Linked DNA regions of Homo sapiens. The protein of the gene in region 1 purifies or fractionates together with the protein of each later gene. This does not show direct contact. Each region holds a gene or a part of one and is shown in the gene's direction. Other genes may lie near its edges.

Region 1 (7,406 bases):
CTCAGTCTCAGCTGGGACCTGCACAGCATAGCAGGTAGGTAAGTGGTCCTTACCTGCTGTGGTGGTTAAAGTGGCATGGCTGCCGCTGAGCCTGGCAGGGCCCCAGATTCATGCTTGCTGAAAATGGAACCTCAGACCAACACACTTTGGATTAGGAACTCACTAAACCTTTCCATTGACAAAAAGCAAAACCAAAGCCTTTGCCTATGAGGGGAGTGAATGGCTGGGTTCTTACTATAAGCAGATCTACTAAGTAGGAGTTTCACAAATGGCATAGGCTCTGGGGTTGACATCTTTCTGGGCCTCATCCTTGGAATGGAGATGCAGGTGCCATCCAGCAGATATTTGCAATCAGTATAGTTTGCCAAGGGAAGTATGTGGATTTAAGTTCTTCCTGGAGGGACCCTGAGCCAGGAATCACACAGGTGGGGCTCCAGCCATGTGACAGTGCTGCAGTTCAGGTGACCTGCTGACAGGCACAAGAGGCAATTAGTGCTGGCCTACTAGGAGCATCTGCTCTGGGTACACTCCTGAGGTGGGGTCACCGCACAGTGTAGCACGTAAGGGAGCCCACAGTAGCAGCCTAGCTGCTAACATCTCCGTGCATTTTTTTTTTTTTTAGACGGAGTCTCAGTCTGTTGCCCAGGCTGGAGTGCAGCTGGGACTACAGGCACACACCATCACACCCAGCTAATTTTTGGATTCTTAGTACAGACGGGGTTTCACCATGTTGGCTAGGCTGGTCTTGGACTCCTGACCTCTGGTGATCCACCCGCCTCGGCCTCCCGAAGTGCTGGAATTACAGGCGTGAGCCACCTCACCTGGCCTCTCAGTGCATTTTATTAACCACTTTCTTTGGGAAGATTGAAATCCCAGTTGCCTCTTACCTTGCTCCCTTTTCTCAGTTGTCCCCTAGGGGCCTTTGTATGATGCTGCTGTGAGAAACTGAATTTGAGTCATTACAGGTAACTTCAATTAGCAGCTCCGGGATAATGGCTGTGCACCCGGGAGCTGTAGCCATAGTCAGATCGGTAAGAGAGCCAGCTTTCTGCTGATAGAGCAGGTGGAAAGCTAAGAGCATAGGCACGTGCTCACTGAGGTGTACACTTGTTCTTTCCCCTTAGGTTGAATTTGGAGGCTTTAATCAGAACTGTGGAAATGCTTCAGATTTAGCCCCCCAGAAGCAGAGGACCAAGCCATTGATTCCAGAAATGTGCTTCACTTCGACTGGCTGCAGCACGGACATCAACCTTTCTACTCCTTATCTTGAGGAGGATGGCACCAGCATACTCGTTTCCTGCAAGAAGTGCAGCGTCCGGGTCCATGCCAGTGAGTGCTGCTCACCTTTCTCTGTGTCCTGTCCCAGGAGTATGGGCCTGCTCACTGGAAGTTCTTGCCACCTCCTGGCCTCCCAGCCCCAAAAAGATTGTTGATGTTTTATTGGGGAGTCTGTTGCTAGCTGATTTTTCACTGTCTCCAGGGGTCCATACTGGCACTAGTCATCTCTTTGCCATCCTCTTGGTTGCAGATAGCAGAAAGGGATTAGTCCCTGCCACTTACTAGGTGTTTGTACCAGTGAATCTACAGTTTTTGACTTTTTGAGACTTTGAGCCATACTGTATGCCTGAGCCCTGGGGACTCAGACTAAAGAAAACTAAGGGGTTTCTGTGAGATTTGGTTGTAGCTTTGGGAGGTGGTATATGGAAAGGAATTGCAAATCTACCTTTTGACTCTGACCACTGGGTTTAATTTGCTCATCTTGGTGTCCCTGTTAGGTTGCTATGGGGTCCCCCCTGCAAAGGCTTCTGAAGACTGGATGTGTTCTCGGTGTTCAGCCAATGCCCTAGAGGAGGTGAGTGATCCCACACTGTTACTGTCTTCACCATGAGTCTTGGTGCATATTCAGGGCCAGACGATTTCATGTTGGACTCAGTATTCCCAGCAGTCTGCATAGGGTCTGGTACGCGGTGATGTCAGAGAGCGAGTATTGTGAGAGTAAATCCTATGACCGTGAGAATGGTTGCTGCCCACTTACGGAGTCTGGATGCTGTGTTTGCTCCATTGTGGAAAGACCAACTAGTGGTCTTCCTGTGGAGGAACAATAACTCCCTTAAAAGAATTTAGCCATTTTGAATTGGAGCCTCAGAAAGGGGCTCAGATGATTCATTGTGCTGTTTTCTCTTCACTGTACCCCCTGGAACCTGGCTGTACCTAGCCCATATAAGAAGCAGTCAGAGCCCTGTCATGCCTCTAGTTTGAGCAAAGTATCTTTTGTGACTTTGCTAAGAGTTGTTATTAGCAGCAACAATGAAGAGGATTATGTGAAGTCACGTGACTACTTGGCACACTTTAGCCCTGAGTGGCCTCTCCTTCTGACAGGGCGTCCTGGTGCAGGGGCTGCCTGGGTGAAGCCCCACATGCTATTATGCTTCTTTCTTATGTGGAGGAGTTGCCCAAAGCAGGTCCAGGGGAGAGCAGATTGAATGTTAATGACTTGGTATTAACCACTTTTTCCTCCCTCTCCTTTCTTGGCAGGACTGCTGTTTATGCTCATTACGAGGAGGGGCCCTGCAGAGAGCAAATGATGACAGGTAAGTTTCCTGAGCAGTGCCTTGGAATGCACAGGCTCAGTTCCGAAGCACACAGTGTCTTTGTGAGGGTACTAGCTGTTCTTCTGAATGACTGATGAGGATTTGGGAAGCACATCGTGTGGAGCAGGAATAGCATCTCCAAGACTCATTTTAAAAATGGAATGCTAAGGGAGCCAAGCAGTCCCAGACTTTCCAACTCCAGCTGCTCCTCTGCAGCAGAGATGTCAGTGACATCCTCCTTTGGAGAAGCTAAGAATGGACTCATGAGAATATGAAGACGAAGATGATGCGCAGGGACTGTGTGGGCTGGAGTGAGGACATTCACCTTGTCACAGCTGGGGCTGGTATGCAGAGGCGGCCACAGGCTAGCAAGCACTTCTCCACATGGCAAACTCCCTGGCTCAGACCTGCTGTTTGGAATGAGGCGAGTGTGCTCAAGGAGGACACTGAGGAGAGCTCAGACAGGCCCACCCACTATGGAACCGAATCTGCTGAATTTTCTGGGCTTCTCAGCTGTTGGGCAGCTCGTTTTCATGGAGTGAATCTTTGTGCTTAGGCTTGTGTTTGGTTGCTCTGAGGTGGAAACGTAAGATGAATGAGGTTTCTGACCTGGAAGAGCTAGCTGTCTAGGGCATGGTGCGTGCAGGTCAGTGCTGAGTATCCTGCTTCCAAGTAGAATCCCGTGGCAACTTGCAGCATATGTTCAGTCCAGCCGCCTGCCCTCAAGAGTCCCAGTTATGCTGTCCCTGAGAGATAGCTACTCTGCCTGCTGCTTCTGCTCCTTCAAAGGCACTTGCTGCCATTATTTGAGGTCACTGGGTTCCTCACAGTCACAGGATAGTGCTGGGAACATTCTTTCTTATTTGGAGTGGAAATGGCTGTGCTTGAATCTCTCACCTTTACCTCTGAATGCCTGTTCTGCCCTCCAGGGCCACACAGAACAAATCTGTTCCCACTCTAAAAAGACAGCCCCACTAGAACTGCAGAGAGCTTCCATGGAGCCCCAGTGTTGTCTGGTGTAGGTTTTCACGTAGCATGGTTTTAAGAGTTGTCACCATTTTCGTTCTTCTCCTCTTGATGCATGCTGGTTTCCCAAAATGTCCAAAACTTACTTTAATTCTTAAGGATGTCCGTTGAATAGACCTCTCAGAGTAAGTGGGGCTTGGGTCAGACCTTAAAGATTAAAGAGTGAGTCAGCTATGGAAAAAGGGAGCAGAAGGGAGAGGTCATTTCAGCCTGGGGGAGAGGTTTGGGCAGAGGCCGAGAGAGAGCTGTGATTACTGGCAGATTAGGGCACAGCCGGGGACGTTTTCAGGAAGCACTTGGGTCCTATGGTAAAGAGGTCTGCATAGAGCTTTCCAGTTTATTCTCACTCCCTGAGACCTGCCACACACCATTAGCCTGCAGCTCTGTTCATTTTTCAACAGAGTGGTGTAAGAAGCATGATCCGGTGCTAACCTAGGGCAGTGGGCAGTGGCCTAGGTGGGCAGTGGGGGTGGCACTGCTTCCACATACTCAGAGGAGAGACGGTTCTGGTTCTCACCTTCCTGGGTCCCAGGCATGTGCTGGTGGAAGTCAGTGGTCACCCAGGTGAGGGAGGAAGCGCTGTCAGCAGGCCCAAAAGAGAAGGCCACAGAGCCTTGGGCCCAGAGGTGACTGAGGGAGCCTTTGCCTTTTGGCAGGTGGGTCCACGTTTCATGTGCTGTGGCAATTCTGGAAGCAAGGTTTGTCAACATTGCAGAAAGAAGTCCGGTGGATGTGAGCAAAATCCCCCTGCCCCGCTTCAAACTGGTAAGGGCTTGTAGACTCTACATAATTTCCCGACTTACAAGTTTCTGGGTAGAAGAGAACAGGGACCTCCTGTACCCCTTGGTTTTGGTTAGAGTTTGTGATTCTCACTCTGTGGTTAGATTCCTTAGTGGAGGCCAGGTGTGGTGGCTCACACCTGTAATCCCAGCCCTTTGTGGGGCCGAGGTGGGTGAACCACTTGAGGTCAGGAGTTCAAGACCAGCCTGGGCAACATGGTGAAACCCCGACTCTACTAAAAATATAAAATTAGCTGGGAGTGGTGGTGCGCACCTATAATCCCAGCTCCTCGGGAATCTGAGGCAGGAGAATCACTTGAACCCGGGAGGCGGAGGTTGCAGTGAGCCGATATTGTGTCACTGCACTCCAGCCTGGGTGACAGAGCAAGACTCCGTCTCAAAAAAAAAAAAAAAAAAATTTCCTTGGCAGATAAAGTTGTAACCAGACCTGGATTAGAGCAGGCTGGTGTGTCCTTGTATTTTGGGAAGGGGCTGGCTCTTGCTTGCTTGGCTTTGCATTTGGGAGGGGAACAACAGAGGAAGCTGCAGTGCCAGTTCCTGCAATCACTGGTTTTCTTCCCCTGTGCTACAGAAATGTATCTTCTGTAAGAAGCGGAGGAAAAGAACTGCTGGCTGCTGTGTGCAGTGTTCTCACGGCCGCTGCCCAACTGCCTTCCATGTGAGCTGCGCCCAGGCTGCCGGTGTGATGATGCAGCCTGACGACTGGCCTTTTGTGGTCTTCATTACCTGCTTTCGGCACAAGATTCCTAATTTGGAGGTGAGAGAGGGTGTCATTCTAGAATCCTCTTGACAGTTTTCATGGTCATTTTCTCTGCATGTTTTCCATTTGTTGTATCAGCAACTATTTCCTCAAGCATTCTGCATTATGAAGAGTGCTAATGAGTTAAGAGATTGAGAGGTGGCCCCTGTCCATCTCCACTCCCTGCCTTGTACTCCATAAGCCAGTGACACCAAACTGCTTGTAGTTGATTCGTTTTGATTATCTCTTTACTTGTCTGCCTCTCCATCAGAATAAACTCCTTGAGGGTCCATATCTTATTAATGTGGTCATCCTTATTACTTAACCTAGTGTCCGGGACATGCAGAACCTCTGAAAATGTTGAGAACAAATGGGGAGAGCTCCCAAGAGTTAACCATGAATTGCCAGACAGTAGAGATTTCTGCAGTTCTCTTAATGGTAAAGCTTAGAGAAAAAGTGACATGTAATGTTAGCTAGAGGAGCTCTGAAGAGGATTGGGTAGACGGTGGCATTTGAAGTGGGTCTTAAACAATAAGAAGGAATTGTATGCAGAGACTGTTGTGTGCAGAGCTTGAGAAACAGAATGAACAGGTCGCAGAAGAAGGATCATGAAAGACTGGTTATGGGAGTGTGACGGTGTGTGGGAGTGTGATGCTTGAGAGGCGGACAACGGCAGAGGATGAAGGCCCTGCACTGCCACTCTCAGGACTCTGACCTGTCTTCACTGGATGAGAACTTGTTGAATATTTTGATTCTGCATTATAGTTTTTGATAATCACTCAGGTGGTTGTTTGAAGAGAGGATTCAGAGTAAGAATTTGAGGCTGGAAAACCAGTTAGTCCAGGAGAGAGTGAGGTCTGAAATGGGAACACATAGGCAGGGCTTTGGGGTACATTTAACTTTGAGATCCTCCAACAGGTAGAACTGATAGGGTTTATTGACCCTCGTGGGTTGAGGAGAGAAGGGGAGAGGAGGAGGAAAGGGGGAGTGAATATTGAAGATGACTCAGGTTACTCCCTTGAGAGATGGGAAGGATGCTAATATGATGTTAGTAACTGCAATCAGGAACTGAGATGAAGCAGTGTTGCTCTGCAAGGGAGAGAAGGAGGGATGAGAAAGAGGAAAGTAAATGCTGAGGTCACTGGAGCATTCTGGAGAGTAACTGTGAGGGTAAAGATTTGGCTATTAGCATTTAACAGCATAGTTAAATCTAGTTCCCATTAGAAACTGGGCTCTGGAGATTCCCAGTGGGAGAAGCAGGTAGCAGAGCATGAACCAGTGAAAGCAGTTGAGAAAGTGAAGCAAGCCAGTGGGAGGAAGGAGGGTCATATCCAACAGAGAAGGCAGGGCTGGTGTGGTGGTCACTAAGTACCACAAACTGGAGTGTCCCTGTGGAGTAGTCAGGTCAGAAGCCAGACCGTAGTTGGGGAAGGCTCTGCCATGAGTGAGTTACAATCTAATAGAAGAGGCGATCATACAAGTTTGACAACAGTGTGGTAAATACATAATCAAAGGAAGAACGTGATAGATGGCCAGCCCAGAAGGATGAACTTTTCACTCTGCCATTTGGGGTTGCAGAAAAGTCCTGGTTGGCTGACTGCATTCTTTTTCATAAAGATGTTGAACGTGACAGGTGGTCAGGGGTATGATAGGAAGGACCTTAGGAAGATGGGAACATATTGTATGTGAGAATGAGACTCCGGAGTGTCTCAAGGGCCCTGCCCTAGCCATCCCTGGTGCCCTCACCATGCCCTTCTCATTCTGAACTTGCCCTTAATGCAAGTAAAAACTTGAGGTAGTACTGAGTCACAGCTATGATAGGGAAGAGTTTTTTCATACACAGAATAGTTATTTTGTGATAATCATTAATACTCCACATGCTTAAGCTGGCAGCTGTAGACTGCTGGTGCTATGAGGAAATTGGGGGGACTGATGAGTTAGTAGTTTTTTCACTGATTTATTCTTCAAATGTTTATTGAGCATTTACTATATGCCAGGCACAGTTTTAGGTGCCAGGACTATACCATTGAACAAGACAAAAAAGTCCTTGCCCTTCTGGTGCATACAGTATAGTTGAAGGACACATAGAAGCAAGTAAATACACAGTATAGCAGATGGTGAGAAGTGCAGGGATAAAAATTAAGTCAGATAAGGGGAATGGAAGATGAAGTAGTAAGGAATGACATCAATAAGTTGACACTGGGATGGGAGTCAGTGTGCAAGTAACTGGGGAATGGCATCTCAGGTAGA
Region 2 (7,406 bases), on another chromosome or scaffold:
CCCAACCAGGTTCCAAATGTCACTTATTTTAATGGTTTGGTACATATACTGTGTATATGTATACTATCTTTTGTTCTTGTTGTATCTCTTGAACTAAAATAGAAGTGGTAATAGAGTAGCTATTCCCCGGAACTCTAATCAGTGCACCTGTGGCTTCTCCTTCCTCAAACCCTACAATCACATAACATGCGAGATTGGTTCCATAGACAGCTGTCCTTCCCTCCTCCCGCCCATCAGGGTAGCTTGAGGTGTGCTACGGCCGGGCCCTGGGTGGGTTCGTGGGTGTTGCTTACTCTGTTGGAGGTTGGGTATTACTGGTCACCAGTTGATGTTTTGACCCTCTCTCTGATACTGTAAGTTGAAAGTTGATTCCGCCACCCACTGAGATCCTTTGTCACTTCCATGGTTACTTGTCCTGATCACTCAGCCTCACTCAGCTGTTCCCTCACTCAGCCAGGATGTCTTCTCCTGTGTGCAAGACACTGTCAGCTCTTCCTTTTAAAGATCTTGGTGAGGCCGGATGCAGCGGCTCACACCTATAATCCCAGCACTTTGGGCGGCTAATGCAGGAAGATCACTTGAACCCAGGAGTTCGAGACCAGCCTGGGCAATATAGCGAGACTCTGTCTCTACAAAAAATTTCAAAACTAGCCAGGTGCAAAGTAGTATGCACCTCTATCACCAGCTACTTGGGAAGCTGAGATGAGAAGATCACTTGAGCCTTAGTACTCAAGGCTGCGGTGAGTCATGACAGCGACACTGTACTCCAGCCTGGGTGCCAGGGCAAGACTCTGTCCCTAAGCATACACCGTCACATGTCAGTCTGCTGCCTGTGGGTGGTTAAGTCTCTCATTATACTGTGAAGACAGTTAGTTTTGCATCCACATATGACAGTATTACAGGACATATAATTCTCATGTCCTAAGAACTTAAGCAACAGTGGGATTTATTTATTTATTTGAGGCAGAGTCTTGCTCTGTGGCCCAGCCTGGAGTGCAGTGGTGCAGTCATAGCTCACGGCAGCCTCAAACTCCTGGACTCAAGTGATCCTCCCACCTTGGCCTCCCAGAGTGTTGGAATTACAGACATGAGCCACTGTGCCTGACCAGCATAGTTTTTGATGCGTTTAGTATCTTAATGTAGCTGCTGAAAACCTTAAGAGCTGACCCCGGTCTCCCAGAAAGACCATGGTGTGCTTAGAGACTCAGCACTTGCAGGGATAAACAGGTCCATCTTCTGGCGAACAGAGAGGGAACTGGGGGGGCTTGCAATTACTATGTGACTTTTTGAGTGAGAGACACAGTATGGCTCCTTGTTGTTCTTTTTTTTTTTTTCTTTTTTTGGAGACGGAGTCTCACTCTGTCACCCGGGCCGGAGTGCAGTGGCGTGATCTCGGCTCACTGCAACGCACTCTGCCTCTTGGGTTCAACCAATTCTGCCTCAGCCTCCCGAGTAGCTGGGACTACAGGTGCATGCCGCCCCTGGCTAATTTTTTGTATTTTAGTAGAGATGGGTTTCACCATGTTCGAGGCCGGTCTCGAACTCCTGAGCTCAGGCAATCCGCCTGCCTTGGCCTCCCAAAGTGCGGGGATTACAGGCGTGAGCCACTGTGCCCGGCCTTTTCTTTTTTGAGACTGGGTCTCACTCTGTTTTATGTAGCCTCCCTCACCCCTTCCCGGGGACCTGTGGCCCCAAACTTTGGACCTTTCACTAGCGAAGGCACCTTCTTACTTAGACTGAGGCCTTTACTCTTTTATGCACTGTGCGTGGCCTAGGTCTCTGAGCACATTAAAAATGAGCTCTACAATTAACATGCCAAGTTCAGGTCTATATTCTAACTCACAACAAAAGTGTGCACTCCTTGTCTAGTAGTTGGCAAATCTGTAACACGTTTGTGTGAGAAAGTACCTCTAGATGGTGTCAGCCTGGGCCCTAAAGAAATTGCAGCACAGCTTCCCTAGGTTGAGAGCATTTAGGTTAGGTGCCCCAAATGGGGACAACTTGCTCAGGGAGATAGACTGCTGATGTGAGGGATGAGATGGAGTGCCTGTGACAAAGGATTGTGCGTGGCCGTGACTCCCACATGGGCTGTTCTGCAGGGTCTTTGCGCACACAGCAGCATGGAATCTGGCCAGTTGGTCTAGAGTAGGGTTTTTCTTGGCAGTCATTATTTACCTTCTTATAGCCAACAGCATGGTGGTTGAGTCTCAGCTTTGGAGTCAGACTGCATGGGCTCGCACTCAGTCCTCCCTCCCGCTTGTTGGCTCTGTGGCCTTGGGTAAACCCTGTAACCTCTCTGTGCCTCCTTTTTTTGTTTTTTCATCTGTGAAATTTGCCTGTAAGGAAGTGTATGGCCTGGCCTGGGAGGTGCCTGGCACTTGACTGTGTTTTTGTCACTGTTGCTCAGATAGAGACAGCTGTCATAGTCCGTCTCTATTTCTTGTTTCCCTGCTGTGGGTCCTTGATTGAAAGAGCAGTTGGGAGACCCTCAGGCTCTGAGTGGCCTGTTCACCTCAGTCGTCTGCAAGGTGAGGCATCCTGTGCCATCTTAGGAGTGGCCCCCACTCTTCTTGAGGTGGCACTTGGCCGCTTCTTGAACGTGGGCCCCTGGGTGGCCAGGCGGGGGTAGGTGGGCCCTGGGATGTGACTGTGGAAGTGCAGGCCCATGACGCCAGTTCTTTCTGCTGTTTGTGCCCAGGTGGCAGCACCATGGATAGCTCCGCAGGAAGCAAGGCTAGGCGTGAGGCTGGGGAGGACGAGGAGGGATTCCTTTCCAAACTTAAGAAAATGTTTACCTCATGATATCCCAGCCGAGGTAGGAAAACCCTGGAGGTTTTTTTTCCCTTTGTTTTCCTCTGTGAACTAATCCTGGTTTTCTCCCACTTTAACCAATATTGTGCCCCCACCCCCAGGAGTTGGAACAGGTGCCAGTCCAAGGTGTGGTAAACCTAGCTCCACTAGGAGCTGGCCTCTCAGCCTAGGGAATAGATGACGTGGCAATCAGCCTGTAGTGCAGGACTGGCTGGGCTGCCGCGGCCAGCCTCTGGCTGTGTCTTCTTCCTGGGGAGGTGGCGATGCTGGGGCTGTTGTACAGCCCCCCTGCAGTGGTGGGTCCGGCTTGCCCATGGTCACAGAGGGCGAGTCAGGCAGAGCCAGGCCTAGAACTCAGATCTCCTCACGTCCTGCCTGCTTGGAAGCTGCCCTCCTGCGTGGACAGCGCAGGGCTGTGCAAGCCTGGGGGCTGCTCCAGGGGTAGCGCTTGCTCGCCGTGTCATCTTGGGACCCACTTTGGTTTATTATGCTCATCTCAGCAAGTGGGGTTCTCGCCCCTCTCTTGGCACAGCTGCTTTCCAGGGATTAACAGACGCTCCCCACAGGGGTGTGTTCCCTTGAAATGTTGAGTATAAGGTAACAGCCTATCTCTTTGGCTCAGGAAAAAGATCCACTGGAAACTAGGCCGGGAAGCAGCAGCCCCTCCAAGGGCCAGGGCACCTGGGAGACGGGAGGATTCCAGAACAGCAGCACTGAGCTCCCACCCGCAGAGCCTCTGGACGGCCTTGGCAACAGCAAAATCATGGGACAACACCTCTCTCCACGGAAAGGTCACAGTGGACAGCCCGGGCAGTAGGATGCAGCCCCAGAGGCTGGTGGCAGTTTCCTGTCCATTGGTAGGTGACGGCCCCTGGCTCAGGCAGAGGGAGATGGTTAGACTCTTGCAGGGCTAAAACTCTAATTTGGAATTGAATATTGTGGATATCTTAGTTAAAGGCCATGCTTACAGCTTAGAAATGAAGCCTTAAGCTGCATCAAGTTACGAAGTGATTAATTTCCTTCTCAGCAAACCTCCGGGAGGTTCCAGAATGAGTTCTTCCTGACAGGTTGTCTTCACTGGGAGCGTGGGGCCCCCAGGCCCCACCAGCACCGTCCTCCCCTAATGAGGGGCCCTGCCGAGGCATCAGCTGCTCTGCTCAGTTAGTTTTTATTCCCGGGGTACCAAGCAGCTGCACAGTCGGTGCCTGGGAGGCACGTAGAGGCCCAGAGAGTCCCTGGGGGTTCTGCTCTGACCGTGTGGGTGGTGATCCTTGTCAGGATGTACAGTCCTTGCTCCCACCCCATCCGGGATGGCCGCCTGTCCCTGACTATTGAGTCCTGTTGTTGTAAGCCAGGCATGGAGGGCTCCTGCCCTTCTGCTGAGCCACAGCCCATTGCAGCACTGTGCTGGCCAGACTTCAGCTGCCTTGGGAACTGAAGCCCTGCCACTGTTGCTAGTCAGGGGCTTGGTTCTCCCACTTACACTGTTGACATCTATTTTCTGAAGTGTGTTTAAATTATTCAGTGCTAATCATTGTTTTTTCCTTTGTAAATGTTGATTCAGAAAAGGAAAGCACAGGCTAAGCAGTTGAAGGTTCCCCACCATTCAGTGAGAGCAGAACCCCCATTCCCCAGCCTCTGCTGGTAGCATGTCGCAGTTTCCATGTGTTTCAGGATCTTCGGGCTGTCGTTAGACAGGTTAATGAAGAACACTTCTCAACAGTTTCCTTTTTGTTTTCCTTTATAATTCACTAAAATAAAGCATCTATTAGTGTCTGATTTAGGAATGTAAAATGATTCTGTATTAATGTAAATAAGATTATCTATTGCAAAAAGATATTTCAAACCTAAATTGTGGTCATTTCTTCTTTGAAAGAATTCAGACAGCCTCTGCAGGTGGCTTATGGGGGTTACAGGAGACTTGGCTGGCCTCATCCTGTGCTCACAGCCACCCAGAGCACATAGAGGCAGATGGGTCTGGGGTGCCGACAGTGCTGACCCTCACTTGGATTCCAGAGCAGGGTGCTTGCCATGACACAACAGTCCCCTGTGAGTGAATGTTCTAGAATCTGGATGTGACTTTTTTCTTGGGAGCCCATGCTGTGAGAGCTGGCCAATGTCCCTGGGTCCCTGCATTTCAGTCTCCCTCACTGGATTGTTTCCCTTCATTCTTTCCAGTCTTTGCATCTTTTACATTCAATTTTATTTTATTTTTTTTTTAAATGGAGTCTCGCTGTGTCGCCCATACTGGAGTGAAGTGATACCATCTCTGCTCACTGCAACCTCTGCCTCCTGGGTTCAAGCGATTCTCCTGTCTCAGGCTTCTGAGTAGCTGGGACTACAGGTGCATGCCACCACGCTTGGCTAATTTTTGTATTTTTAGTAGAGATGGGGGGTTTCACCATGTTGGCCAGGCTGGTCTTGAACTTCTGACCTCAGGTGATCCGCCCACCTCGGCCTCCCAAAGTGCTGGGATTACAGGTGTGAGCCACCATGCCTGACCAAAATTTTTATGTATTATAGTTTGGCTACTCTGGGTTCCCAGCCACGCTCTATGCCTGGCGTGGCTAGAGGGGCCCTGATACACAGCTCAGTCCACTCTGGCACTCTGGGCTGAGCAGGGTGAGATGAGAGTCTGTTTGCTGGGTCAGGTGGAGAAGAGACTCGGGAAAGAGCTGACGGACAGGAGAGGCTCAGCAGTGACATTCTGCTCATCTCAGATACTTCCCAGTATTTTCATCAATGAAATACTGATTGCCTGCCTACTGTGGACACTCAGTATGGACCAGGCCCTATTCTAGTTCCTGGGGATACAGCAGTGGGGAGCTAGACCGTGTCTCTTGTGAAAGCTTGGGCTTATTCCTGGAACAGTCACCCTGAGTCTCATTCATGTCCTATTGCTTCAAAGCAGAAGTCTAGAGAAAGACTTTGGAAGAGAAAGGTGGATTTTCTTGCTAAACAGAAACCATTGTTGTGTTGAAGCATCCTTCCCTCAAGGGATTAGAGGTGGCTGTGCATGACCAGGCGAGGTGGCTCACACCTATAATCCCAGCACTTTGGGAGGCTGAGGCGGGTGGATCACCTGAGGTTAGGAGTTCAAGACCAGCCTGGCCAACATGGTGAAACCCCGTCTCTATAAAAATACAAAAAAATTAGCCAGGCGTGGTGGCACATGCATGTTATCCAAGCTTCTCAGGAGGCTGAGACAGGAGAATCACTTGAACTCAGGAGGTGGAGGTTGCAGTGATTGGAGATCATGCCATTGCACTCCGGCCTGGGCGACAGTGCGAGACTTCATCTCAAAAAAAAAAAGGTGGCCGTGCAACAGCTGTAGAATTCAGTGCTCTTTCTGGGCCTGGGTTTGGTTTATTTCCACTTGTGCTCCTGATGTATTTGTTACCAGACTTCTTTATAGCTTCTGAGTAGTAGTATGTATTTAAAAATATAAGAAAAGGGCCAGGCATGGTGGCTCACGCCTGTAATCTGAACACTTTAGGAGGCCAAGGAGGGAGGAATGTGTGAGCCCAGGAGCGAGAGAGTGAGACCCCCATCTCTACAAAAAAATTCTAAAAAATTAGCTGGGAGTGGTGGCTTGGCACCTGTAGTCCCAGCTACTTAGAAATCTTGAGGTGGCAGGATTGCTTGAGCTGAGGAGTTCAAGGCTCCAGTGAGCTGTGATCATGCAACTCCACTCCAGTCTAGGTGACAGAGCCAGACCATGTCTCAAGAAAATAAAGTATTTCTAGGCCTGTGAGCCTGTGGGAGGTACATGTTTGGCACTTGCTTAAACATTAGGAGGGTGGGCCGGGCGTGGTGGCTCACACCTGTAATCCCAGCACTTTGGGAGGCCAAGGTGGGCGGATCATGAGGTCACGAGTTCAAGACCAGCCTAGCCAACATGGTGAAACCCTGTCTCTACTAAAAATACAAAAATTAGCCAGACTTGGTGGTGGGCGCCTGTAATCCGAGCTACTCGGCAGGCTGAGGCAGGAGATCCGCTTGAACCCTGGAGGTGGAGGTTGCAGTGAGCCAGGATTGCGCCACTGGATTCCAGCCTGGGTGACAGGGTGAGACTCCATCTCAAAAAAAACATTAGGAGGGTGGACAAGGCCAGCTCTCAGGCATTGGTCCTCAGCCCCATTCCCACCTCAGGCCTGGGACTGGGTTGTTTCCAACCTGAGCCCCCTCCTCACTCATAGTCCTTTGGGTTCTGGTGGCCTGGCCTTTGTTTCCTTCCCTGTCAACCAAACAGTGTGCAAGAATTCTCTCCAGGCCCACAGGCCTCCAGCTGCCCCTGCCCCTCTGTGTTTGTAGCACTGCAGAGCCGGCTCTGATGTGGAGGACGGCAGCTGCACGGCTCCTGGAAGAGGCTTGTTTCACACTCTTGCTTGTTAATAAATACTGTGCAGGTCTTATCTTTTAACTAGAAGTTCTGCTTATTTCTCATGACTCTTCAAGGGTCACAAATGGGCCAGGGGGGAACATAAAAGGCGAAGTGGGTCCATAGTTATATGGCCAAGGGCATGATCCACAGACCTTAGCTTACTGGTCACCTCCCCCGATGCTGCTCCTGTCCCCATTTATTTATCCTTCCT
Region 3 (7,406 bases), about 69 Mb from region 1:
TTTCCCAACAATAGGTTTATGCTAAAACTATCGATGGGCAACAGACTATTATTGCATGTATTGAAAGCCACCAGTTTCAGCCTAAAAACTTCTGGTAAGAAGTAGATATTCTCTTCTATTTACATCTGAAAGAAACCAGCAGTTGAGACTTGGTTTTTAATCCAACTAGCTTGGAATAATTATTTAACTTACAGACTTCAGTTTTCCATCTATAAATGAGGGATTTAGATTCCTTACAGTTCTAAGGTTTTATAATTATATTTTCCTTTAAAAGTTACTCTTATTTTGAGTGAGAACAAGTGATTAGTAAAGTGCCCTGTTGAAAATCTGAGTTTTACTTGGCTTAGGGTTACTGCTACTTGAGTTAATTGTGTAACTCAGCAGCCTATTCATCTGATTTTGGAAGAGCCTCCCATGAGCAGAATAGGCATGGTTTTCCATTTCAAGGGAAAAAAGGAAAAATGAAAGACAAAATAACTTAGAAAAGGCTTATGGTCAGGCCACTTAGATCCAGACTTACATTTGAGTAGACAGAGCTTTGGGTTTGCCAAACTGGAAATGACAGTTTCTCTCTCTCTCTTTTTTTTTTTCTTTTTTTGCACCCCTCTTTCCCAACTTCTGTACCTCAGTGGCAAATCACCTCTTTCTTGTGCTTATTGCTAATTCTGCAATGTTGTGTGTGTGTTTTAATAGGAATGGTCGTTGGAGATCAGAGTGGAAGTTCACCATCACACCACCTACAGCCCAGGTGGTTGGCGTGCTTAAGATTCAGGTGAGATTCCAACATGTTTATAGACTTAAAACTTCACATCTTTAAAACATGTGCAGGTTGCTTTGGTATTAAATAAGGACCAAGTATGTGTAGATGCAAAGGGAGACTGATGGCAGTGAATAGAAATAGAAGCCTCCTTCTTGGGGTGGTAAACAGAGAGAGCTATTCTGAGTTGATAAAGGATAGCATGTAGAGTGTATGGCAACATGGTTATTGTTATTTTTCCTTCAATGGTAACATAAGATATAACTAGGAATTATCAAACAGCAGTTTTAGGAAAGATTTAAAATTAATAATAATAATAATTATTATTTTTTGGGACAGAGTTTCACTCCATCACCCAGACTGGAGTGCAGTGACGTGATCTCAGCTAACTGCAACCTCCACCTCCCAGCCCAGGCTGGGTTAATTCCTAAAAATTATAACTAGAGAGAATGGCAGGTGTTTTGGAATATAAATAGCCAAGCAGAAGTAGATTGATTGATTGATTGATTGATTGACTGATTGATTGATTTTTGAGATGGAGTTTTGCTCTTATTGCCCAGGCTGGAGGTGCAATGGCATGATCTCGGCTCTTCGCAATCTCTGGCTCCTGGGTTCAGGTGATTCTCCTGCCTCGGCCTCCCGAGTAGCTGGGATTACAGGCATGCGCCATCACGCCTAGCTAATTTTCTATTTTTAGTACAGGCGGGGTTTCTCCATGTTGGTTAGGCTGGTCTCGATCTCCTGACCTCAGGTGATCCACCCGCCTCGGCCTCCCAAAATGCTGGGATTACAGGCGTGAGCCACTGCACCTGGCCCAGAAGTAGATTTTTAATGCTGATGTCAGGGTAGACAGGCAGCTGAATAAGATAGCTGTTAACTCATTTGATGCCTGTCTGGATTGAAGTTTAATATCCTAGCAGAGGTTTGACTTTCTAAACTCAGGGTGATTTAATATTTAAGCCTCACTAACTGTAAGGTCAGAATAGGTACAGGTAACCGAGAAGATCAGTACCTAATCGTACCTGTATTATATTATGTGAAGCTGTGCTTTAACAACAATTACCAAGAGTTGTCTTTTTTTTTTTTTTTTTTTTTTTTTGAGAAGGAGGAGAAGGAGGAGTCTCGCTCTGTCGCCCAGCCTGGAGTGCAGTGGTGCAATCTTGGCTCACTGCAACCTCTGCCTCCTGAGTTCAAGCAATTCTCTTGCCTCAGCCTCCCAAGTAGCTGGGATTACAGGCACACACCACCACGCCCAGCTAATTTTTGTATTTTTAGTAGAGGTGGGATTTCACTATGTTGGCCAGGCTGGTCTTGAACTCCTGACCTCAGGTGAGCCACTGTGCCCAGCCAAGAGTTGTCTTTTTTAATGCTCTAATTTAATCAAGTGCATAGGTAATAAATTCTGTAAAAGTAAATCTGCTCTTTTTATATATACCTATAGCTTCCTGCAACAAGTAGCTCCTGGCCATAGGAGCATGCCCAACTCAGGTGAGACAGGCTGGTGTTGAGTTCACAGCTCTAGGAGGAGCCCTCAGTGATATGTAAGAGTTGGTAGATAAATATGGCAGCTTCCTCAAGTAGGACAACTTTCAAGCACATTCTGTTTAGTCTTCCGGAGCCCAATACCCACAGCTGTAACCTGCTCATAAACGTACCTCTAAGGCTTCCTTCCCTTCTGTGTCCCACTTCTTCTGTCCCCTACTGTAGCTTTGTGAGATTCGCTCCTGAATAAACTACTTTTTCTCTAATCTTTGTCTTGGGGTCTCCTTCTGGGAAGGTGCAACCTAAGACAGCATACTGTTCTGTTTCTGTTAACAAAATATCTTAGTAGCCTAGCGCTCTAGATCTCTTGTAACTGTGGCATTAGCATTAACTTCCTAGAACCATGGTATCAGCATTGTAGAAGCTTATTGTAAATTTTGTGTAAATAAATTTTACTTTGTTTCTAGATGGAAACAGCCATTTGTATTTTAGCTCTGCCAGTGCAAACCTATAAAATAAGAGCACACATCACAAAGGGTGATAATTTATGGTAAGATTCAAAATACAGCCCAGTGTACAGACCCACATTTAAACCTTTTTAAGCACAGATTGAGCACACTTTTGGGGAAAGCTTATTTCATTTACATATCTTTTAAATTTTGGAGTGAGAATTATTTGGAAAAGTCGTTAAGATATTTAGCCTTTCAGGCTAGTCTATAGGCAAAAACATCGTTCTGAGAAGGCAACAATTTCTGAGGATTTATGTTGATGACAATCATGTTGAAATTTGTGTTAGTTAATTGAACCATTTTCATATTAGCAGATGAGACCTAGAAAAGGTCTTAGAACACATAAGTTTTGAGCTTAATTTCTTTCTTGAAACGGTGTATCTCAACTCTGTCACCTAGGCTGGAGTGCAGTGGTGCTTTCATAGCTCACTGCAACCTCAAACTCCTCAACTAAATGATCCTCCCACCTCATCCTCCCAAGCACCTAGTGCTACAAGCACATACCACTGTACCTGGCCAACTTTTTTTATTTTTTTGTAGAGTCGGGGTCTCACTATATTGCCCAGGCTGGGTTAATTTCTAAAAATTATAATAACATTAGTGTATTAGGTAATGAAATTAATATTTTTTAGAATTTTTCTTTTTTTTTTTTTTTTTTTTTGAGACAGAGTCTCGCTCTGTTGCCCAGGATGGAGTGCAGTGGCAGGATCTCGGCTCACTGCAAGCTCCACCTCCCGGGTTCATGCCATTCTCCTGCCTCAGCCTCCTGAGTAGCTGGTACCACAGGCGCCCGCCACCATACCTGGCTAATTTTTTGTATTTTTAGTAGAGACAGGGTTTCACTGTGTTAGCCAGGCTGGTCTCGAACTCCTGACCTTGTGATCCGCCTCCCTCAGCTTCCCAAAATGCTGGGATTACAGGCGTGAGCCACTGCGCCTGGCCCTAGAATTTTTCATTGAGATCAAAAACAGTGAGGCTTATTGACCTTACCCTATATTCCTTTCCATGTCCTAATTAAAAAACATAACAGAAGTTCAAACTAATTGTATAGTCTTTATTCTCGAACAAAAAGAATGTGCTCTGCATACCTCCTCTCTTTAGACAAGTTCTGAGAAATACAGAAGTTCTTGTTTCTTCTATGGCCAGATCTGTTGTTGTTTTTTTAAATATCTCCCATCCTGTTTGTAATAATTCCCCCCTGCCCCCTTTTTGTTTTGTTTTGTTTTTTGAGATGGAGTCTTGCTCTGTCGCCAGGCTGGAGTGCAGTGACACGACCTTGGCTCATTGCAACGTCCGCCTCCTGGGTTCAAGCGATTCTCCTGCCTCAGTCTCCCAAGTAGCTGGGCGTACAGGCGCATGCCACCACGCCCAGCTAATTTTTTGTATTTTTAGCAGACACCGGGTTTCACTGTGTTAGCCAGGATGATCTTGATCTCCTGACCTCGTGATGCGCCTACCTTGGCCTCCCAAAGTGCTGGGATTACAGGCGTGAGCCACTGCACCCGGCTCATTCCCCTTTTGAATGTTCTTTTCAGTCCCTGAACCTCTAGTTTTTTTAATGAAAAAACAAACAAAACTGATATTTGATTGTGACCTACTTGTATTTTAAATATTCTTATCTATTGGGATTTTAACCTTTATATGTCATCATCATTTAGCCCAGTCTTTTTTGCCCACATCTTTGCTGTTCTGATTTTACATGTAAGTATTAGTGGTTCTTATTATCACCCTTCTTTTCCATTGGATTCTCATCTTGTCTCCAGTGGATTCCAGTCTCTCTCTGTCACCCAGGCTGGAGTGCAGTGGTGCAATCTCAGTTCACTGCAGCCTCTGCCTCCTGGCTTCAAGTGATTCTCCTGTCTCAGCCTCCCAAGTAGCTGGGATTACAGGCACCTGCCACCATGCCTGCCTAATTTTTTTTGTATTTTTAGTAGAGACAGGGTTTCACCATGTTGGTCAGGCTGGTCTCGAACTCCTGACCTCAAGTGATCTGCCCACCTCGGCCTCCCAAAGTGCTGGGATTAAATGTGTGAGCCACCATGCCTGTTCTCAGTAGATTCTTATATTGTCTTTTCTTCTTTAACCTCTTAGAAAGCCAAAAGGTAAAATTTCAGGGTTTAGAGAGGGTATGGAAAGTCTAGCTTCTCATGCCCATCTGGATAGAGCCAGCTGTTTGTCCTCATTCAAGAAGATACTTGCCGGGCACGGTGGCTCACGCCTGTAATCCCAGCACTTTGGGAAGCCAAAGCAGGGGGATCATGAGGTCAAGAGATCGAGACCAGCCTGGGCAACACAGTGAAACCCCATCTCTGTTAAAAATACAAAAATTAGCTGGCCATGGTGGCACGCACCTGTAGTCCCAGCTACGTGGGAGGCTGAGGCAGGAGAATTGCTTGAACCCAGGAGGCAGAGGTTGCAGTGAGCCGACATCAGCCACTGTGCTCCAGCTTGGGCGACAGAGCGTGACACTGTCTCAAAAAAAAAAAAAAAAAAAGATACTTATTTTTGTCCTTTAAACAAGGATAGGTAGGGGGTTCTTGTTATCCAGGAAAGTCTTTTTGTTGCAAATAGCTTTCTGCCTAGATGAAGCTTGACTGTTAGTTATGCCCTTCTAATGATATCCACAAAGAGTAAGCCCCTGCTGAGACACTATTTCTCCCCAGATCAAGGAATTTCTAACTTTTTGACAAAACATAGCATTGGGAGGTATTACATATGTTGGATAGCTCTGGAATTTGACCTAATTCAAATCCTAGCTCCTCCTCTTACTAGGTGTGTGAACATGGATAAGTTATTGTTTAATAACTGCCTCAAGGCAAACTTCAGTTTCCTCAGCTGTAAAATAGGGTTAGTCGTAGTCCTCATCTCATAAGAGTTTTTGTAAAGATTAAATGTGGTGGCCTAGCGCAGTGGCTCATGACTGTAATCCCAGTACTTTTGGGAGACCGAGGTGGGTGGATCACAAGGTCAGGAGTTCGAGACCAGCCTGGCCAACATGGTGAAACCTCGTCTCTACTAAAAATACAAAAGTTAGCCGGGCGTGGTTGCGGGTGCCTGTAATCCCAGCTACTTGGGAGTCTGAGGCAGGAGAATCACTTAAAGCGGGGAATCGGAGGTTGCAGTGAGCCGAGATCGTGCCATTGCACTCCAGCCTGGGCGACAAGAACAAGACTCTGTCTCAAAAAAAAGGATTAAATGAGGGAATATAAGTAATAGTGAAGTGTTTGCACAGTGTCTAACACATAGTAAAGGCTTAATAAATAATAGCTCCTACAGCTAAGATTACTGAGTAAGTGAGATGAAGTAAGTGAAGATTACTGTTCTTCTCTTTTCCTTTTCTGCTTTATCCCTCAAAACATTCTGTTTTGTTCACATATCTCCTGGTAGCATAGACTAGATGTCTTTGTTTGGGGTTTTTTTGTGTTTTTTTTTTTTTTTTGAGACAGAGTCTTACTCTGTCACCCAGGCTGGAATGCAGTGGCATGATCTTGGCTCACTGCAACCTCCGCCTCCTGGGTTCAAGCAATTCTCCTGCCTCAGCCTCCCAAGTAGCTGGGATTACAGATGCCTGCCACTACACCTGGCTAATTTTTTTTGTATTTTTAGTAGAGATGGGGTTTCGCCGTGTTGGCCAGGCTGGTTTCGAACTCCTGACCTCAAGTGATCCGCCCGCCTTGGCCTCCCAAAGTGCTAGGATTACAGGCATAAACCACCGCGCCCGGCCTTGTTTCAGCTATTATAACACAATACCTTAGACTGGTATACCTTAGCAGAAATACCTTAGCAGAAATTTATTCCTCATACTTCTGGAGACTAAGAAGTCCAAGATCAAGGTGCTGTTAGATTCAGTGACTGGTGAGTTCTGTTTCTCATAGGTGACACCTTCTGCATTCTCACGTGACAGAAGGGGTGAACACTGTCCTCATGAGGTAGAAGAGTGGCAAGAGAGCTTGATTGAGCCTCTTTTAGAACGGCACTAATCCCTTGAAGGCTTCATCCTCATGACCTAATCACCTCCCAAAGGCCCCTCCTCTTAATATTATCCCATTGCATATTGGTCCAACATAAGAATTTTGGGAAGGTACCAACATTAAAATCATAGCACTAGATAAATGGCATTACCTGGACTATTGTTCTGGCATTATGTCTCCAATAGCAGCTCCTTCGTTTTATTTTCTTCATAGCACAAGTATAATCTTTCTAAAACATTCCTTTTCCCGTGTGTCACCTATAATAGGATAACATCTGCATTCTTTTTTTTCCCTAAGATGGGGATCTTGCTATATTGCCCAGGCTGGTCTTAAACTTCTGGCCTCAAGTGATCCTCCCGTCTTAGCCTCCTGAGTAGTCTGAATTCTTAACATGGTTTATAAGGTGCTTTGTTCTTCACAGTCTGTGTTTCCACTTCATAGCAATGTCTCCTGCCACACTCCTTTTTTACACATATTCATATGCAGTGAGTTCTTTGTTCTTCTCCAAATTAAACCAGTTATACTCCATTCTGTTATACTTTTTTATCTCCTTGGTGTAGATGTCATTCTCTACCTGTCTACTTAGGTGACAACTACTGTTTTCAAGATCCTATTCAAATGCACAAAAGGATACCCTCATCCTATTGTGTATGACCAATTAGTAGCCTTGTCAAGGTGACTAAACCT
Region 4 (7,406 bases), on another chromosome or scaffold:
TGAGAGCTATACTCTAAATAAAAAAAAATTAAATTTTTAGGCATAACTTTAAAAAATTTTTTTTTGTAACTTTTTAATCATACATAGAATATTTCACAAAACTCTACTGAGCCTTTTTTGAACCTTTTTGAATAAAAAGACCCTTTTAAAGTTCTGACGAGGCGTTAGCATTCTAGGTTTCATATTGGACCACTGACTCATCTTAGTATTTTTTCCCCATAAAACAGCATAATAGGAATAATAATAATATGATTGAGTGCTTGCTGTGGAAGAAGATTCTGGAAGTGTTAATGTTTTTGTGTGTTCTTGTCTATAAATAAATAGCTGTTACATATAAGCTATGTGCCAGTTCAGCCTTTGGTAGAAGATGGTTTTCTGAGTAAAGAAATCATTTATGTTGAAACTAAGCTAGAATTCTACTTAAAGCTATTAGTCTACCAGCAAGAGATCAGGCTTGGACGGGCATTCCAGAAGATGTGTTTCAGACTTAAAAGCAAGAGTTGTACTCCCCCAAATATTGCATCTATATTCAGTGAATATAAGGCTGCTGCTATTCCTGAACTCGAAAGATAAAAATGAGGAAAAGGAAGGAAGGGATAGCCAACTTACATAGGATTCTGCAGGTGGCTGTTGACTGGAATCACTTTTTTCTGTTTTCCTCCCATGATTAGGACACTTTCCTTCCTCACGTGGAATGTGGGACGATCACTCTGATTGGGGCAACCACTGAAAACCCTTCCTTCCAGGTCAACGCTGCTCTTCTGAGCCGCTGTCGAGTGATTGTTCTTGAGAAGCTTCCAGTAGAGGCAATGGTGACTATTTTAATGCGAGCGATCAACTCCCTGGGAATCCACGTCCTAGACTCTAGCCGTCCCACTGACCCTCTGAGCCACAGCAGCAACAGCAGCTCAGAGTAAGTTGACAGTGTGCAGCGTCCTGGGGGCACACACCTCCCAGAGAGTCTCCTGGCAGGGGGCCAGAAAGGGCCGGGCGTCAGTGAGGAGAGGGTGGGGACAGAGAAGAAATGTTGATCCGCCCGTAATGAAAATAAAAGAGGAGGGAAATGTTCGATTATACCTAACAAAGTTATCCCTGCACACTTGAAGATGCATTTTCCAGCCTCTAATATGTGTTTCTATAATTCTTCAAGCTTTAACTTTGCTTTGTTGTTTTGGTTCTTGGGTGTTTGCTTTTGTGCTTAGGCTTCTATGGGAAGCCTTATTGATGATTTGAAAGGCTTTATGTCCCTCATTGAATAGAACAAATAGATAGATAAATACTTTCTAGACTTACCATACAACTCTTTTGAGCATTGTACTCATGTTTCAATTTCTTTTTAACCTGCAGTTTAGCATTTTGTTAAAAAAAAAAAATCAAGTAAAAATTAACTTGTAACCTTAAAATTATGTAATCCTTTTTGTGTAGTTGAAACTCAGTTTCATGAAAGTAAAGGAATGTTAACTGAATATGACATTATAGGCTGTCCCTATCCTTTTAGTGACCTATTTCTGCATCATGAGTACCACATGAGCTCGTTAATGCACCAAGTGTATATCATAGATAATTTGATTTCTTGGGTCAGGGGTTTTCCTTTTTTTTAATATTAGAACATATTCTTCAGATGGTATTTGTTCATACGTTGGCTGAAATACTGCCATGGAACATAATCTGGTGTGATGAGAGGCTATTGCCCACCTCCTCCTGCTGTGGACTCTGCAGCTGCTCGTGCCTGCCCTGAGGCCAAGTTCTGGAGCCACTTTTCTGTGAGGATTAAAGTACAAGGCATAGTTTAGGCTCAGGGTTTAGGTTTCACCAGGCTCTCCCTATGTGTCTGGCCCCATTTGCTCCTGTCTGAGATGGAGGGAGAATTCTGCTGTGTCTAATGAAAGCATTGAAACATTTGGCCCGTGGACCACTGGGTAGGACAGAGTGGCCTTGTTTTGGAATACCGTTGTGATGGGGATAGCCATTACATCTGTGGCCACAAGCAGTGTGTGGAACCTGTGGTATCAGCCACATGGACTCATACTCAGAAGTGCTTTATGTGGTGGGCATTTGTCAGAGCCTAAGGGGGCTGCCAGCTCCTCATATGTAGTACAGGTTGAGTATCCCAAATCTGAAATCCAAAATGCTCCCAAATCTAAAGCTTTTTGAGCACCTTCATGATGCTGTGAAAGGAAATGCTTATTGGAGCACTTCAGATTTCTGGATTTTGGGTGCTCATCTGGTAAGTATATAATGCAAATATTCTAAAATCAAAAAAATAGGAAATTCAGACCACTTCTGGTCCCAGGCACTTCAGATGTGGGATACTCATGTGTAGGTTTCCCGTAACAGAATTCTCATTACAGACGCATAGAACCACATGGTAAAGACAAATTGAAAGAAAAGGGGGGAAATCCTAACATGTTTCATGTTTCTGTGTGTTCTTTGCTCTGTGTACTGGTTATCGTAATGTATCTGCAACTTAATATTCTGCATGTGTACTTGTCTGGGGTGATTTTTATTGATTTCATGTCATCAGTTCATGAAATAGAACATGAAATCAATAATTAATATTGATGACATGAAGTCAATAATAATCAGTTGTTACTCAGATACCCTCAGGTTTTTTCACCTCTCCCCAGTCACTGCCGTGCAGGAATTTAAAGGAAATGAGAAAGGCGGCAGCCAAGGAGCTCATCCTTGTGAGAAGAATTTCTATATTTTATTATTAAAAATCCTCAGGTGATTTGCAGGCACATTAAAGTTTGAGAAGATCAAGTGAAATAATTAAGATTTAGTTATTGAAACTGATATAACAATGAGCTAGAGATTGTTTATCTGCTAAAATTGCTTTTCAGAGAAAACTTCCCATATCCAGTAAATGATTTACTATTTCCACTACCGCTTGCTTAGACTTGATCCCAATTATATTTGCTATCTTGTGTCCCCCGCTTTCCTGGGAAGACTGTGAGGACAGGAGCTTGTCCCTGTTCATATCCCCAGCACAGTGCCTGGCACACATTATGTGCTTTGTGAATGGTTTGGAAATGAATAAATCCTAGCTTTCGATATGAGAAAAGTAGTTTAATATGTTTTGCATTATCCAGCATAAGGGATAATTACCCAGGTATCAAGAGCCTTTTTCTTTAATACTATTGCCCTTTTCATCAGCAGCAAGCAGAGTAAAATGAAAGAATGTTAAGCTTAAAACCATTAATTGGTCAACTTGTTAGCAATTCTAACAAGAAGTTAAGTTAGGAGATATCATAGGCCACAGAAAGAACTCTTACAAGTGATTTCCGAATACAAGTACCTGCCACCCCAACTGTCAGGGATAATTAAGAGTGGATTGGGATGTCTTTTAGTTGTTTTAGGTAAAATTTTGCTTTCCAATCCCTGTTGACAGCTCTATATACATCCTTGTGCATATAAATCAGATTTGGTGACACTAATCTAGTTGAAAGAAAAGACTTCCAACCCCATATACTTACTTTCTCTCTCCAGGAAGCTATTGGTGTGCATTTGTATTCTTGTGTCATGTTTTGGTGCCCTAGATAGCAACTAGAACATTTACAGAGAAGTCCCAGGCTGTTGAACTGCACGTGAGAGGAGGTGAGCAGGGCACTGGATTTGGAAACTAATCAAGCTGCCGCTTAGCCGTTCTTGATTGCACTTGAGGAATTGTGAGTTGTCACACAGTATACTCATGTAAGTGATAAATTCCCATTAAAGTGAAATAAGTGTTCTTTTTTTAAAAAAAAATTCCCTCCTGTAGTTATTATTCAGTCAAAATTGAAGCTCCTGCATATGCTAGGCATTGGCTGAGGGTTGAAAAGCTTGTTCCTGTGCCTTCAGAGGGAGCGCAGTATGATGAAGGCTAGGGGAGCAGGTCCACTTCCAGTGCCACGCTTATACGCCAAGTGCAGTGGGCGTAGAGAAGCAGCATTCAGAATATGTGAAATCCAGTATTTCACCTCCTAGATGAGGGGATGCGGAGTTGAGTTTTGAAGGATAAGCAGAATTTAACTGAGTGAAATAGAAAGCTCATTGTCTACGCCATAGTTGCTTTGGTTTGTATGGCTAAGCAGTAGTGTTCAGGTATTTTGCTCTCCCAAAAATATTTGGATCACATGATACAAACAGTGAAGATTCTGTCTGCTCTGGGTTAATTTTGGAGGCCAGGAAAAAAATGTCCATGATTCATGATACGAAGAATGAGCTTGTGCTGCTGAAAATGAAAAAGTAAGCTAGCATTTCGTCATCCTGCACTACTTGCTGCTTTGAAGGAATATAGATTCCTAGGTCATAGAATATATACATAGTCAAAAACACTCCTAAAGAATCAATTATTTGTGAACCAGATAGAGTATACAAGTCTTTGGAGATCAAGAGAGTGAAATGAGAAGCCATAACTGCCCTCTGCCTAGCTAGGCTGAGTTCCGAGAGGTGGTTGGAAGACAGAAAGTGGCGTCTGTCCCTGGGTAAGGGCTGTGGCGTAACTGGGTGTGGGGCTTTTCTCTAATCATCTGGAGAGGAGAGCCCCTGACAAGCTGGCCCCCAAACAAGGTGGCTATGGATTCTTCTTTTTATAAAAGTTTAAAGTGTCTTAAATAACCTTTTGTGCCATTGAATAGAAAGAAAGGTAGTGGAACTCCAGAATACAAGGGATTGGCCAGAATAAATGGTTGGTATAGAGTAGATGTCAATCTTTTTATTTAAAAATTTTTTAAGTACATTAATACAGTACATTAACATAGCTGTTTTAATACAAGGGTGCATTAAAATAATGCCATAAAAGCACCAGCAGCCAGAACCACAGATCTCATGGTCCTTGGATGCACTTCCTGTGGCTGCTGTAACAATTGCCACAAACTGGGTGGCTCAGAACACAGAGCTTTATCCTCACAGTTCTGAAAGCCAGAAGACCAGAATCAAGGTATCAACAAGGCGATGCTCTCATCCAGCATCTGATGGCCCTTGGCATTCCTTGGCTTATGACTATGTCACTCCAGTCTCTACATCCATCTTCACATGGTGGCCTTCTTCTCTGTGTCCTTACGTCTTCTCTTTTTCTGTGTTTTGTAAGGACATTTGTCATTGGATTTAAGGTACACTCTAAATCCAGGATGATTTCATCTTGAGACCCTTAGTTACATCTACAAAGACCCTATTTCCAAATAAAGTCACAGTCACAGGTTCCAGGGATTAGGACTTACATCTTTTGGGGTCACTATTCAACCCACTACAGACCCCTACCAAGTATAATGTAATTTGGAAAGACATGTGCCTCCATGGGATTAAACAGAAAGACGTCGTCATCTGAAATGTACCTTCTCTCTTTGTGGAGAAAGTCAGTTTTGTTTTGCTTTGCTTTCACTCTGATGTTATGGAAGCGGCAGCATCTGGGGCTCTGCCTTGGATATGTGCAGTTCTGGAGAGTATGCTGTTGCACAGTCTGATGAGGGTGATTCTCCTCGCTGTTGATACCAAAGCAGTATTTGTCGAGTCTCATGACATGGCAGGCACTGCTCTAAGCATTCCACATGTCTTAATCTCATTCAGTCCTCAATACAGCTCTGCAAAGTAGATCTCATTACCTCCTATTTACTAGATGAGGAAACTGAGGCACAAAAAGGTTAAGTAACATGCCCAAGACCAACCAGCTTCAATGTGATGGAGCCAGTGTTTAAGGCATGTCTCTGTCTTCTCAGTGACTTCAAGTGCTACAAGGGGTGGAGGTGCCAAGTTTACAGAGGATGGACCCACTGCTCGGTTTTTCTGTTCTGACTTTTCTCTCTTGGCACTTCTTTGTGTAAGAGCAGCAGGAGAGCCTTTTAACCAGATCTGCACATCACACTTCCCTGGGATACATTTTAGAAACATGCCTTGCCCAGGGTCTGCCCCTGGAGATTTGAGCTCAGTCTATGGTAGGTAAGGTACATGTGGCTGTATTTGTGTCTAACTTGATGCATATCCCTGGTTGAAACTTCTACACAGCAGTTATCACCCTGACCATGAAATGTTCCTTTTCCTTAGTGGAAGAGATTTGTGGGGTTTGGTTTGTAATTTAGAGAGGGAGAGTTTAACCAAGCCATGCATATTCTTTCATTCTGCCTTGAAATAACAGGTACATTTTTACTTACTGCACTCCTTCTCCAACTTACATATCCAGCTGTCTAAGTAGTATCCTCCAAATTCCAGTATTACCCAATGTGTAGAAAGCTTCAGGATTTAGGCACCTGGAAGAGGAAAGAAGAGAGCTTCCTATATTCTTCTGTTAAAATTAAAGCCCTTCTCATCAGTTGGAGAAGCCAAGCTCTCTTAAGTCTGTTTCTATCTCTAGGTTTTGTTAACTAGAAATAGAATCTTTTCCAATGCATTTATTTTAACCAATTTTCCCTTATTATAAATAGTGTTTTATTATAACAACATAATTTACTTCCTATTGTTTATTTCCATGTAGGATGTTATGACATTTTGGGCAGTCTATCCCCAGAATAGATTTTACCTCTTTTTATTGTATTCTACCTTTGGAAGGTTATTTTTAAGTGCAAAACACTTTATAAATATATGCTTAATTTTAATATATGCTTAAATTTAAAAATAATTGTAAATTCTCTAGACTGGGAACACTCTTTCAAAATAGTTTGTGCCGCAGTTTGCTGAGGGATTTTGCCAATATCAATACAACTATCCCTTCATCATTCTTGGCATGAGTTCTCTCATGGGCTTCCCATTCTAAGATCTCAGGGTATTTTAGTATATCTTACTTCGTTCTTCAGAACTTAGTAAATGGGAGTTCAAGATATATTGGGTGTTTAAGTGGAACCTTTCCCTGCTCAGTCGTCTTCACAGTGAATCTCCATTTTGTAATTTTCTTGTGTGATCATTGTGAGTGCTGTCAGCAGGTCCTGTATTACTTGGACAGAGTTGCCGACAGATTGATCTGGGCCTCGAAATACTTTCTTCTTTTGGACGGGGTGAAATTTAAAATGTGGATTATACCCAAGGGGAGGAAGAAGAAGGGAGTGGCGCGAGCTCAGGTAGCTTTCGTTGTGGCAGCACCTCCATTCCCCATGACTCCAAACCAGAAGTGTGGAACCACTTGTACTTTGGTCAGGAGTTTAAAAGCCAAAGGAAGACCTTATTTTCCAACCACATAAAATACATAATCATTGCTAAAGACTTATTCACAGCATACTGTTGATAAATCAATGGAGTAGACGGCTAGCTGGCTTCTGTCCTAATTAATAAGGCCTGCCTCCCTGTCTGTATATGAGGACTAATGGAAATGAGGCAGTTTATACTAGTAAATACCATGGTATATAAGGCTGCCCATCTCGTCACTGTCCAAAGAGCATGCCATGCCCCTAAATACATACAAAAGACAAATTCATGGAGAAGGGATACATACCAAAATA

The links.
Region 2: the proteins of KDM4A (region 1) and DNAJA3 purify together in Homo sapiens (pull-down; one study listed by IntAct). This does not show direct contact.
Region 3: the proteins of KDM4A (region 1) and CAPZA1 fractionate together in Homo sapiens (co-fractionation; one large-scale study listed by BioGRID). This does not show direct contact.
Region 4: the proteins of KDM4A (region 1) and WRNIP1 purify together in Homo sapiens (pull-down; one study listed by IntAct). This does not show direct contact.

Annotation. Positions count from the first base shown.
Region 1 is NC_000001.11:43,689,721-43,697,126, forward strand, and holds part of KDM4A (lysine-specific demethylase 4A), read left to right. Parts: intron 1-1,124; coding exon 1,125-1,329; intron 1,330-1,775; coding exon 1,776-1,852; intron 1,853-2,535; coding exon 2,536-2,591; intron 2,592-4,273; coding exon 4,274-4,382; intron 4,383-4,988; coding exon 4,989-5,174; intron 5,175-7,406. UniProt on the Homo sapiens protein: Histone demethylase that specifically demethylates 'Lys-9' and 'Lys-36' residues of histone H3, thereby playing a central role in histone code. Does not demethylate histone H3 'Lys-4', H3 'Lys-27' nor H4 'Lys-20'.
Region 2 is NC_000016.10:4,452,113-4,459,518, forward strand, and holds the end of DNAJA3 (dnaJ homolog subfamily A member 3, mitochondrial), read left to right. Parts: intron 1-2,698; coding exon 2,699-2,802; 3' UTR 2,803-2,815; exon of another isoform or gene 2,816-2,816; intron 2,817-3,433; coding exon of another isoform or gene 3,434-3,456; 3' UTR 3,457-4,663; downstream 4,664-7,406. UniProt on the Homo sapiens protein: Modulates apoptotic signal transduction or effector structures within the mitochondrial matrix. Affect cytochrome C release from the mitochondria and caspase 3 activation, but not caspase 8 activation.
Region 3 is NC_000001.11:112,659,008-112,666,413, forward strand, and holds part of CAPZA1 (F-actin-capping protein subunit alpha-1), read left to right. Parts: intron 1-14; coding exon 15-94; intron 95-693; coding exon 694-772; intron 773-2,198; coding exon of another isoform or gene 2,199-2,228; exon of another isoform or gene 2,229-2,245; intron 2,246-7,406. UniProt on the Homo sapiens protein: F-actin-capping proteins bind in a Ca(2+)-independent manner to the fast growing ends of actin filaments (barbed end) thereby blocking the exchange of subunits at these ends.
Region 4 is NC_000006.12:2,769,449-2,776,854, forward strand, and holds part of WRNIP1 (ATPase WRNIP1), read left to right. Parts: intron 1-609; coding exon of another isoform or gene 610-665; exon of another isoform or gene 666-671; coding exon 672-913; exon of another isoform or gene 914-928; intron 929-3,489; coding exon of another isoform or gene 3,490-3,550; exon of another isoform or gene 3,551-3,603; intron 3,604-7,406. UniProt on the Homo sapiens protein: Functions as a modulator of initiation or reinitiation events during DNA polymerase delta-mediated DNA synthesis. In the presence of ATP, stimulation of DNA polymerase delta-mediated DNA synthesis is decreased.